Linked DNA regions of Homo sapiens. The protein of the gene in region 2 interacts with the protein of the main gene of each other region in a pairwise test. Each region holds a gene or a part of one and is shown on either strand. Other genes may lie near its edges.

Evidence for each region.
Region 1: the proteins of EEF1D (region 2) and MPC2 interact in binary tests that used the Homo sapiens proteins (3 or more experiments, as listed by UniProt).
Region 3: the proteins of EEF1D (region 2) and ABTB1 interact in binary tests that used the Homo sapiens proteins (3 or more experiments, as listed by UniProt).

Annotation. Positions count from the first base shown.
Region 1 is NC_000001.11:167,930,459-167,934,110, forward strand, and holds part of MPC2 (mitochondrial pyruvate carrier 2), read right to left. Parts: intron 1-3,652. UniProt on the Homo sapiens protein: Mediates the uptake of pyruvate into mitochondria.
Region 2 is NC_000008.11:143,583,916-143,587,567, forward strand, and holds part of EEF1D (elongation factor 1-delta), read right to left. Parts: intron 2,938-3,652; coding exon 2,814-2,937; intron 2,376-2,813; coding exon 2,304-2,375; intron 1-2,303.
Region 3 is NC_000003.12:127,675,863-127,678,751, reverse strand, and holds part of ABTB1 (ankyrin repeat and BTB/POZ domain-containing protein 1), read right to left. Parts: intron 2,783-2,889; coding exon 2,638-2,782; intron 2,481-2,637; coding exon 2,321-2,480; intron 2,217-2,320; coding exon 2,171-2,216; intron 1,786-2,170; coding exon 1,669-1,785; intron 1,585-1,668; coding exon 1,466-1,584; intron 1,288-1,465; coding exon 1,189-1,287; intron 1,077-1,188; coding exon 909-1,076; intron 1-908. UniProt on the Homo sapiens protein: May act as a mediator of the PTEN growth-suppressive signaling pathway. May play a role in developmental processes.

The DNA.
Region 1 (3,652 bases), on a different chromosome or scaffold from region 2:
TAAAAAACTAGATCCCTAAATCCTAATCTAACAATAATTATATGACTTTCCCCAATGAAATCTGAGTTTCCTGAAGGTTCTGAATGTAAGAAAAGTCCTAAGAGAATACCAAATTATAGATTATTAGCTGGAAAAGACTTTAAGGAAAGTCCAAGCTCCCTCATTTTTATAAATGAAAAAGATGAGGCACTTACAAGTTAAGTAATTTGTCTTACACTCAGGAGAGTTCTGGATAGAGCAACGACTAGAACACAGTTTCTTTGATCCTAGTCCTCTTTCTACTGTACCATACAGCACTTTAAACATATTTCATTCTCTGTTATAAGCAAAATTAATATTTTTACATGACCTGGAAATGATAAACTATTTATAGCTTAGGGCTTTCTTCTCCTTTAGCACATCTGCATAAACAGTTCTAATTTCTTAAAGTTAGTTTAAAAGCAGGATAGCACACAAAAAATATGTTAAGTGTTGAACAACTGCATCAAGGATGATAATCTGCTCTGTTGCCCAGGCTGGATTGAGTGCAGTGGCACGATCTTGGCTCACTGCAACCTCCATCTTCTGGGTTCAAGCAATTCTCCTGCCTCACCCTCCAGAGTAGCTGGGATTACAGGTGTGCACCACCATGCCCAGCTAAATTTCGTATTTTTAGTAGAGACAGGGTATCACCATGTTGGCCAGGCTGGTCTCGAACTCCTGATTTCAGGTGATCCACACGCCTCGGCCTCCCAAAGTGCTGGGATTACAGGTGTGAGCTACCGCGCCCAGCTGATATTCCTTTTTATGAATTCTTCTGAGAATACAAACTCTGTGTGGGTGGGTTTCGTTATTTTATCCACTGCTTTATCCTGAGTGCCAGAACAGTGTCTAATATACAATAGGCCCTCAATAAATATTGAATAATTCAACCTTCTTGGTAGCTGATTGTTTGAAGATATTCTATTTTTCACCAATATTTTACAATTGTATTTGAAATTCTAATCTTACATCTATTTTAGTTATCTCTTAACTTTAAATAAGTTATTACTTTAAAAAATAATATATGTATATTTAGTGTATTTAAACTTAATATATTAAATATACACTTAAGAATATATATGGACATATATTAATATCTTAGACTGGCATTAAGATTCTTCACTGACAATCTGTGGCAACAAAATAAGTTCTAACAGAGATGCTAAAGAACTGTGTAATTCAAACTATGTAGGTACGTACACTCATTATTTGATCCATATTAGATTTTATTTACATATAATAGAACAATATATATTTGCACTAAGTTGTATTTAACCATCTATTGTAACATCAATTCTCTTAGCATTGAATATAAAATTTTTATGATACAGATATTTCCTTATAAACACTGATAACATTGGTTCATTTAGTTTATTTTTATTTAAAAAGAAATATCCTCTAGGTCTTTAAAATTAAACAAGCTAATTATCTAGGAAAAATGCAAATATTATTCTTATTTAGACTTTAAAGTAACTTTTCCCATGAGTCTTCAGAGGGAACCCATGTAATGTTAAGAATGATATTCTCAGCACCAGCACATTAAGCACTGCAACAAGTTTCACAGAACTATTTTTTCAAAAGCTCTTCCATGTAAGCCAAAATGTAATTCAGTAAAAGGAGAGCTATAATGCGTTAAAATGATATGGTTCAGATAGCTGTTTTTGGGACTAACTTCACCAAAGGATAGTTTTTAGACTCTTTAGAGCTGTGGTCTTCCAGCTCCTCTTGAACATATGCCCTATCAGTAAAAAACAATTTGAGTATACATCCTGTTTATAAATCATTTATATATTTATAAATTATATAGAATTACTGCAATAATATATTTTTGTATTACAGAATGTATACACAATGAAAAATTTAAGTGGATGAAATAACAGTAAACGTTACTGGAAGTTCTATAATTTTCTTCCTACATTCCAGTGTTTCATTGTGTGCACCCCTTGGGATGACTTACCCCATTTTGGAACTCACAAATACAAATAAATGACACTCCTCCACTGATAATTTTTTTGTTTTCCTTAACTAAGCTTTTAAGAAAACATTGGGCCGGGTGTGGTTGCTCACACCTGTAATCCCAGCACTTTGGGAGGCCAAGGCAGGTGGATCACCTGAGGTCAGGAGTTTGAGACCAGCCTGGCCAACATGGGGAAACCCCATCTCTACTAAAAACACAAAAATTAGCTGAGCATGGTGGCACATGCCTGTAATCCCAGCTACTCAGGAGGCTGAGGCAGGAGAATCGCTTGAACCCAGGAGGCCAAGGTTGCAGTGAGCCCAGATCACACCACTGCACTCCAACCTAGGGAACAGAGCAAGACTCTGTCTCAAAAAAAAAAAAAAAAAAAGAAAAGAAAAGAAAAGAAAAAATAACACTGGGCAACATAACTTCAAGATTATTTCTTTGACAAACACTGGAGTACAGCTATGCAACTGGCTAGGGTGGAGTCACATATTTTTATAGTCAGGTGGGGGATAATGCGGGGACTGACATCCTTTTTTGTGAGTTGAGGAACTTGACCAGGACACACATTTGGCTAGAACTCTATTCCTTCTCTACAGTGGCAGATCATGACATGCCAGCAAAAACACATAGGCAAATGGATAATGAGAGCCTCAAAATTCTGGCTCACAGGTCAGAGATGCAATACTGTAACTAAAATATGTATCTATACATAAAAACACATTAGTTTTTTTTTTTTTTTTTGAGACAGAACCTCGCTCTGTTGCCAGGCTGGAGTGCAATGGCACGATCTTGGCTAACTGCAACCTCCACCTCCTGGTTTCAAGTGATTCTCCCGCCTCAGCCTCCCAAGTAGCTGAGATTACTGGCACCCGCCACTACACCCGGCTAATTTTTGTATTTTAGTAGAGATAGGGTTTCATCATGTTGGTCAGGCTGGTCTCAAACTCCTGACCTCAGGTGATCCACCCACCTCAGCCTCCCAAAGTGCTGGGATTACAGGTGTGAGCCACCGTGCCTGGCTAAAAACACATTCTTGTTACCTGTCGAGACATACAGTGTCAGTGATAAAATTAAATCTCAAAAATCTAGAATCAGCAATGTATGATTTCCAACTGTTAATATTGTAGCATTTCATATCATTTAATAAACTCCTTGTAGGTGAATCTAGAAAAATGTTTCAATGACAATTCAATAACAAATACTGTTAGGCAAAATAGTATGCAAAATCCTTGAATATTCACTCTGGATAAACTCTTAAGACAATAATCAGTGTTTCCTTAGATTTTATTCAATACTCATCAGTCAACGTATTTTTCAAGCTCCTCCATTTCTACACTGGTGTGCCTCCAACTTGTCGATCATAAATAATTCTGCTGTAATAGATATCCTTACTCTGTATGTTGCTCAAATTTTAGAACTGACAGTTATTGAGAGTCTAAGTGCAAACGCTGTGCTACATGTTTTAGAGACATTAGATCATCTGATTTTCACAACAATCCTGAAATGATTACAATTACTCCCATTTTATAGATGAGATAACTAAGGCAGGAATTTAGGGTCAAGGTCACACAGCCAAGACTGAAACGTAGGTCTATTTCCCTTCAAAGCCTAGCTCCTTTTACTACACTGAAAAAGGGGGTTAAAATAACTGAACGAATCCAAGGA
Region 2 (3,652 bases):
ACAAGACAGCTGCCTGGGAGCCTTGGGCCAAGGACCGTGAGCAGCTTCCAGCAGCCAGAAGAGACAAGGAAGCGGATTCTCCCCGCAGAGACACCAGAAGGACCACAGCCTTGATTTTGCCCCATAAGATGATCTCAGACTTCTGGCCCCCGGAACTGTAAGGTGAGGAACTTGTGCTGTTTTAAGCCACGGAAGTGTGGCAACGTTACAGCAACATCAAGTGGAAACCAACACAGATCCTGGCCCAGGAAGTGGGGTGCTGCTGGAATGCCTAACAATGTGGAGATGGCTTTGGAGTTGGGCAGTGGTGAGGCGGGAAGAATTTTGAGGAGCGTGACAGAAAACCCCTAGACTGGGCCGGGCACAGTGGCTCACGCCTGTAATCCCAGCACTTTGAGAGGCCGAGGTGGGCAGATCATAAGGTCAGGAGTTCAAGACCAGCCTGGCCAACATGGCGAAACCCTGCCGCTACTAAAAAAAAAAAAAAAAAGAAAAAAAAATGTCAGCTGGGCTTGGTGGCAGACACCTGCAGTCTCAGCTACTCGGGAGGCTGACACAGGAGAATCGCTTGAACCCCAGAGGCTGAGGTTGCAGTGAGCCAGGATCATGCCACTGTACTCCAGCCTGGGCGACAGAGCAAGACTCTGTCCACAACTCACCCACCCCCTCCAAAAGAAAAACCCTAGCCTGTCTTGAGCACCCTGTTGGCAGAATTCAGATGCTAAGGCCCTCGGTGAGGACTCAGAGGAGGTGAGGAGCAGGGCAGAGAAAACACGTCATCTTCTAGAACAACCTAAACTGCCACGAACATGCTGTTGGTAGGAATAGGGATGTTAAAAAATGACAGCGGGGGGGACCATGGGCCACACAGGAGCGCTCCCTTCAAACCTCACGTGACCCGCCGGGCTGGACTGTGAAACTGCCTGGGACTAGTGACGCCCTGTTTCCTTCTTCTTTTTCCCATTTTGAAAGGGAATGCCTGTCCCACAATTGTATTTTGGGAGCAGATAACTTGCTTTCCAGTTTCACTGGTCCACAGATGGAGAGGAATTTTGCCTCAGGATGGACCACGCAATCCCCCATGCCTGATTGGATGGGATTCTGGACTTTGGAGGGACACTGTGGGGGACCCAGGCTTCTGCAGATGTTGGTGAGGAGCAATGCACCTTACAAATGAGACAATGAGAATCTCCGGCGCCCACGTCCCAACCCCCAGAGCCTGCAAATCCACTACCTTACATGGCAAAAAGAAGAATTGGCAAACACGATTAAATTCAGGATTTTGAGGTGGGAACATCCTGGACCTGGGATCCTGGGGGCCCAAAGCAAGTACAAGAACCACGTAAGTGACAGAGCGAGGCAGGAGGTTCGAGAGAGGCGCGAGATGGAAGTGGAGGCGGGGCGGGGATGAGGCTGCCTGCTGAGCACCTTGAAACAAGCAACGTGGGCATCCACCAGAATCTGGGAGAGGCAAAGGAACAGACTCCTCCTGAGCCTTTGGAAGGATGGCGACCTTGCTGACACTGGGGACAGCCTCGTGAGACACATTTCAGATTTCTGGCCTGGAAACCCGGCATGATACAGATGTACTGTTTCCAGCGTGAGGCTGTGGAAAGCCATAGCAGCAGCCACAGAAACACTGACCCCGTTCTTGGGGCCAGGACACCACCCCGTCCCGGGGAGAACGCAGTCCCAACTCCTCGGGAACACCAGGGCTGCCACCTCCCGGAGGACACCCCTTCCCCAGCCAGCCTGTCAGGCCACAGCTACTGCCTCCAACTCCTGATCTTGGCCCGGGGCCTGGAGGCCAAGCAGGGATACAGGGCTCCTTCTGGGTCTCCAACTCAAGACGGTGCCAACTCTAGGCTCTGAACTCCTTGCGCCTTGCAGAACCACCACTTCTCTCTCCCCAGTGAGGCAAGATCTAAGAGGGAATGTGGGAAGGCCCAGCAGACACACAGTCCTGCCACAGGGAGCAAGCAGGGAGGCACAGGCTCTCATGCCAGGTGCCCACAGGACACCCTGCAAATGGCACCACTCAGCTCCCAGCCGGCCCCACAGGAGCGGCCAGTGTGACCGCCAGCCGGCAGACGAGGTAAGCACGGAAGGGACGCGAGAATAAGAACACTGTCCGTGGCAGTCCGGGCATGGAGGTCACAGAGCCACACGTCCCAAGGAGCACAGCGCCGTGCACCCTGCCCTGACTCTGCTGTGAAGCCAAAACAACCAGCAGCATCAGGAAAAATCAGACATGCTGCTTGGCCGAGCAGGAGCCCGCAGGTCCGTGGGCCGCGGGTACTCACTCCAGCCAGGGATTTCTGGATGTTCTCTCTGGCTCTCGCAATGTCACGGAGGATCACGCTGGCGCCGTTCTCCTGCAGACAGTGCAGAAAGAACCAGTCTTTTTTTTATTATTAAAAAAGAATTTAATTAAAAAACAAACCAAAAAACCCCATGAACCCTCACATAGAGACAGCAAGAAAGTACTGCACAGAACGAGAGCTTGGCGGGCCAGAAAAGCGGGAGATGCCTGAGGCTGTGACGACAGGCAAAGGCGCCCATGTCTGCGGGGGAAGGAGTGCCAGGCCTGGCCCCACACCAAGTGCACAGGCGCCGGCAGGAGGGCCCTGAGCAGACCCGGCCCGGGGGCCCGGCCAAGGCCGCCTGCCCCGAGACCCCACTCCCAGCACCCACAGCAGAGCCACTGGGCCAGGGTGCCTCTGCCTTCCTGGCCTGGCTGAATCCGCTTTGTGTGCCCCGGCCACTCCTGTCGGGCAGCAGAGCCGCCCAGCCGCCCCACGTGCAGCTCTCACCTGGCGGGAGGCACCTGCCACAGGCCCGTTCATCTGCTCGTAGAATCTCCTTTCTGCGTCGTCATATTTGAACTTGTCGAACCAGATCTTCTCATGTGCTAGGAAGTTTGTAGCCATTTTTCTGCTGGGAGGGGAAAGAGGCAAAGTCAGCATGGCTGGGAAGTGGGCCTCGGCATCAGGACAGCCCAGAAGCACCAAGGTGCAGTGGGGCTGACACCCGCTTCAGACACCAGCGGTTCTCCACAAAGCGACACCAAGCCCGTAAGCCCTCACCCCACATGGCATCCCCAGGCCTGTCTTCCAGACGAGGAGTTCTCAAAGTGTGGTCCGAGAACCTCTGAGGGTCCCCAGGCCCTTCCCTTTCACTCACACGAAGCTGGGTTTATGTCAAACAGCTGAAGTGCGGAGGCAGGTATGAGGGCCCAGCTGCCTCCCACTAAGCCAGACACCCGAGAGATTTGCAAAAACCTCAAGCAAGGCCATTCTGCTCACTGAATTTTTTGGTTATGGGAAAAGTATTTCTCATAAAAAAAAAAGATGTTAGTAATATGTAACAAGTTTCTTCAACAAATAAGTACACTTAGCATTTCTGAGTTTTTTTGTTATTTTTTTTTTGTGTGAGATGGAGTCTCACTCTTGTCGCCCAGGCTGGAATCAGCGGCGCGATCTCGGCTCACCGCAACGTCCGCCTCCTGGGTTCAAGCGATTTTCCTGCCTCAGCCTCCCGAGTAACTGGGACTACCAGTGCACACCACTGTGCCTGGCTAATTTTTTGTATTTTTAGTAGACAAGGTTTCACCATGTTGGCCAGGCTGGTCTTGAACTCCTGATCTCAGGTG
Region 3 (2,889 bases), on a different chromosome or scaffold from region 2:
CTGCCTTCCTCTTCCTCCTAGAGCATGAGTTTGCCTAGGACCCAATCTCCATGGCCAAACGCGATGCCCCAGGCAGGATGGGTAAGCTACGGCCTGTGGACCAAATCCAGCCTGTTTGTGCAAGTAAAGTTTTATTGGAATGCAGCCTCACCCACTCATCTCTGTACTGTCTCTGGCTACCTTTGCGCTACAGAGTTGAGTAGCTACAACAGGGCCATATGGCCCACAGAACCTGAAACACTCACCTTCAGAGAAAAGGTTTTTGACCTTCACCCTTAGGCATACAGGGGCAAGATGGAGGGATGACCTGATCTTCCGCAAGCCACTTGCCCTGGGGCACCCACCTCAGTCAGAAGTGAAGGAGAAACAAACTCCCCTCTTCTTTAAGCCACCAGATATGGGGATTGCTTTATAGTGCGCGCGCACGCGCACGCACACACACACTCTCTCTCTCTCTCACACACCCTGGCAGAGCAAACCTTCAGCACTCTGCTGCTGCCCTGCAGCCTTGGCTTACGGACACCTTGGGGCAGCTGGAGACAGAGGCAGGCAGCAAGGGAAGAGGAGACTGGGAACCCAGAACCCCAGGGATCTGCAGCACCACAGAGAGGAGGCTGTCCCCACCCACCCTCCACCCTCCTGCTAGAGAAGCTGAGGATCCCAAGTGGCTGACAAGTGTGGAGTGTCTGTGACACAGGCTCATCACTCATCCTCTCTCTGGAGCCCAACAAGGCTTCCTCTACCTGAAAGAAAAATCCAAAGTCCCACAGCCTTCCCCTCCAGCCTTCTCAAAACGTCAACCATGGGGCCAGCTGGGCCCTTCCACAGACCCCCAGGGCCCTGGCGCTCCCTCTCAGCCCACGGCAGCACAGGTTGTGTGCCATCCCCAGCTCTGCCTGAGCCCCCACCTCAGTGTGGTCGCTGTACATGTAGTAGAGCACGTGAGTGAAGACGTCGGGTGAGATGCCATGCAGGGTGACGGCTGGGGGGCCCCCTGAGGTCGCTGGCTCCTCGCTCTCTCGGAAGTGGTCATCCAGCAGGGCTCGGAAGTAGTCACTGCGGCCACAGAAAAAGGCCTGGGGGAGGCCGGGCTCAGGAAGTGTGAGGGCCAGGGTCTGTCTCCTGAGGAGCTAGACGGGGGCTCAGGGCAACGGGCTGGGGCCAGGGGCAACAGGAGGGCACAGGCACCTTGTGGCAGAGGAAGCTGCAGCCAGCCACTCGGAAGCAGATGTCAGGGCAGCTGTTGAAGCCGTCAGGACAAGGGAAGGGCAGCTCCCAAAGATCACCCTGGGGTACAGAAGAGGTGACCCCATCAGAGCAGTTGTTCACAGAAGTGAACGACTAGGTTCAGAAAAGGGAAGTAACTGGTCCAGGACCACACAAGGAATTGAGCCCAAGTATCTGGGCTGCCTGTCACGGCCTGCCATCCCAAAACGCCCTTCCTGCCCACCAGCCCCGCACTTACTCGGAGCTCGGGGGGCAGGGCACAATCGGCCAGCAGCGCCATGTCCTCCCGGAGGCGGGGGTCTGCAGGTGGGGGCTCGATGGTCAGCACCTTCACACACGTGCCTGGCTTAGACGCCACTACAGGGGAAGAACAACTTCAGGGAGCCAGGCCAGCCCTGCCAGGCCGCACCCATGGCCCCGGGCCCCAAACCCTGCTCGCACCAAACTCAGACACCTTCTCGCACTTGGCCTCCAGGTCGCTGAGCAGGTCCCACAGCTGGCATTGCTTGGCCAGGCGCTCACAGTCACTCACATGCTCTACGCCAATGTCCAGGCGGCCTGGGGGCAGTGGGGAGGATGAGGGCCTGCGGGACCTCAGCTGTCATCAGGCCCACAGAAAAAGGGTGATCCCCTCCCACCTGGCCACCTGGCTGCAGGACTAGGACTCCTGGGCCCACTTGCCACCATGGTTTCCCCATCAAAAGCTGTTCTACAGGCCCCAGGGAACAGATGGGAGGGCCTCAGCATGTGGGTGGGACAAGCTCTTCCTGAGCAGGCACACTAGTCCTCTCTCTTGCAACCCAACCCGAGAGGCAGCTGGAACCACCCCGGGGGGACCATGAAGTGTCTAGAGGTGAAAGGTCAGCCCAGCCACACCTAGGTGTACTGCTGTCCAGAAGGACGGCCCACTCCCTCTCCTCCTACCCTGGACCCAGGGGGTCACCTGTGTACAGGTACTGCAGCAGGGCCCCAAAGGCCACGGGGTTGATCTGTGGGCAGAAAACCAGAAAGTAATGTCAGAGGCAGCCACCCAGCACAACCTCCTGCTGTTCCTGGACAGTTCATGCCCCTCTGCCACCCTGAAGGGACATACCAGTGGGTGCCTGAGAACCACGACACTCTTGCCCTTCCATTTGGTGTCCAGCATGTTGGCAAAGTAGGCACTACGTGCACCCAGGACGCAGCGATGCACCCGGAATGGCTTCCCGTGTACTACAAAGACCACGTCACTGTGGATGCCCTGCTCTAGAAGCCTGGGGAGGGACAAGCCAGGAGGGAGGATACTTGGCACAGCCCCACCCCATTCCTCGGAGCACTCAGAACCCAGTGCAGGCCACAGTCAGAGCAGACTCGCCACACCCACCAGGGCCACCGCACCCCATGCTGCACCCCTCGTGTGCCCTGGCTCACCGCTGCAAGAAGTCGTCATAGTAATCCCGCCTCCTGCAGGAAGCCGTGACCTGCTTGTAATCGCGTAGAGCCCGGCGGATGGGGTCACTCAGTGCCCCATAGAGGCAGCGCTCACCATCGAAGGTGTTGGCCTCGCAGCGGGCTCCTGGGGGAGGCAGGGCTCACCAGTTAGCAGGGAAGGGGCCTGGGGGAAATTCTAATCTCCCTGTCCCTCCTCCCCACCTTCCCACACATGGGGCTCCGAATCTCTGG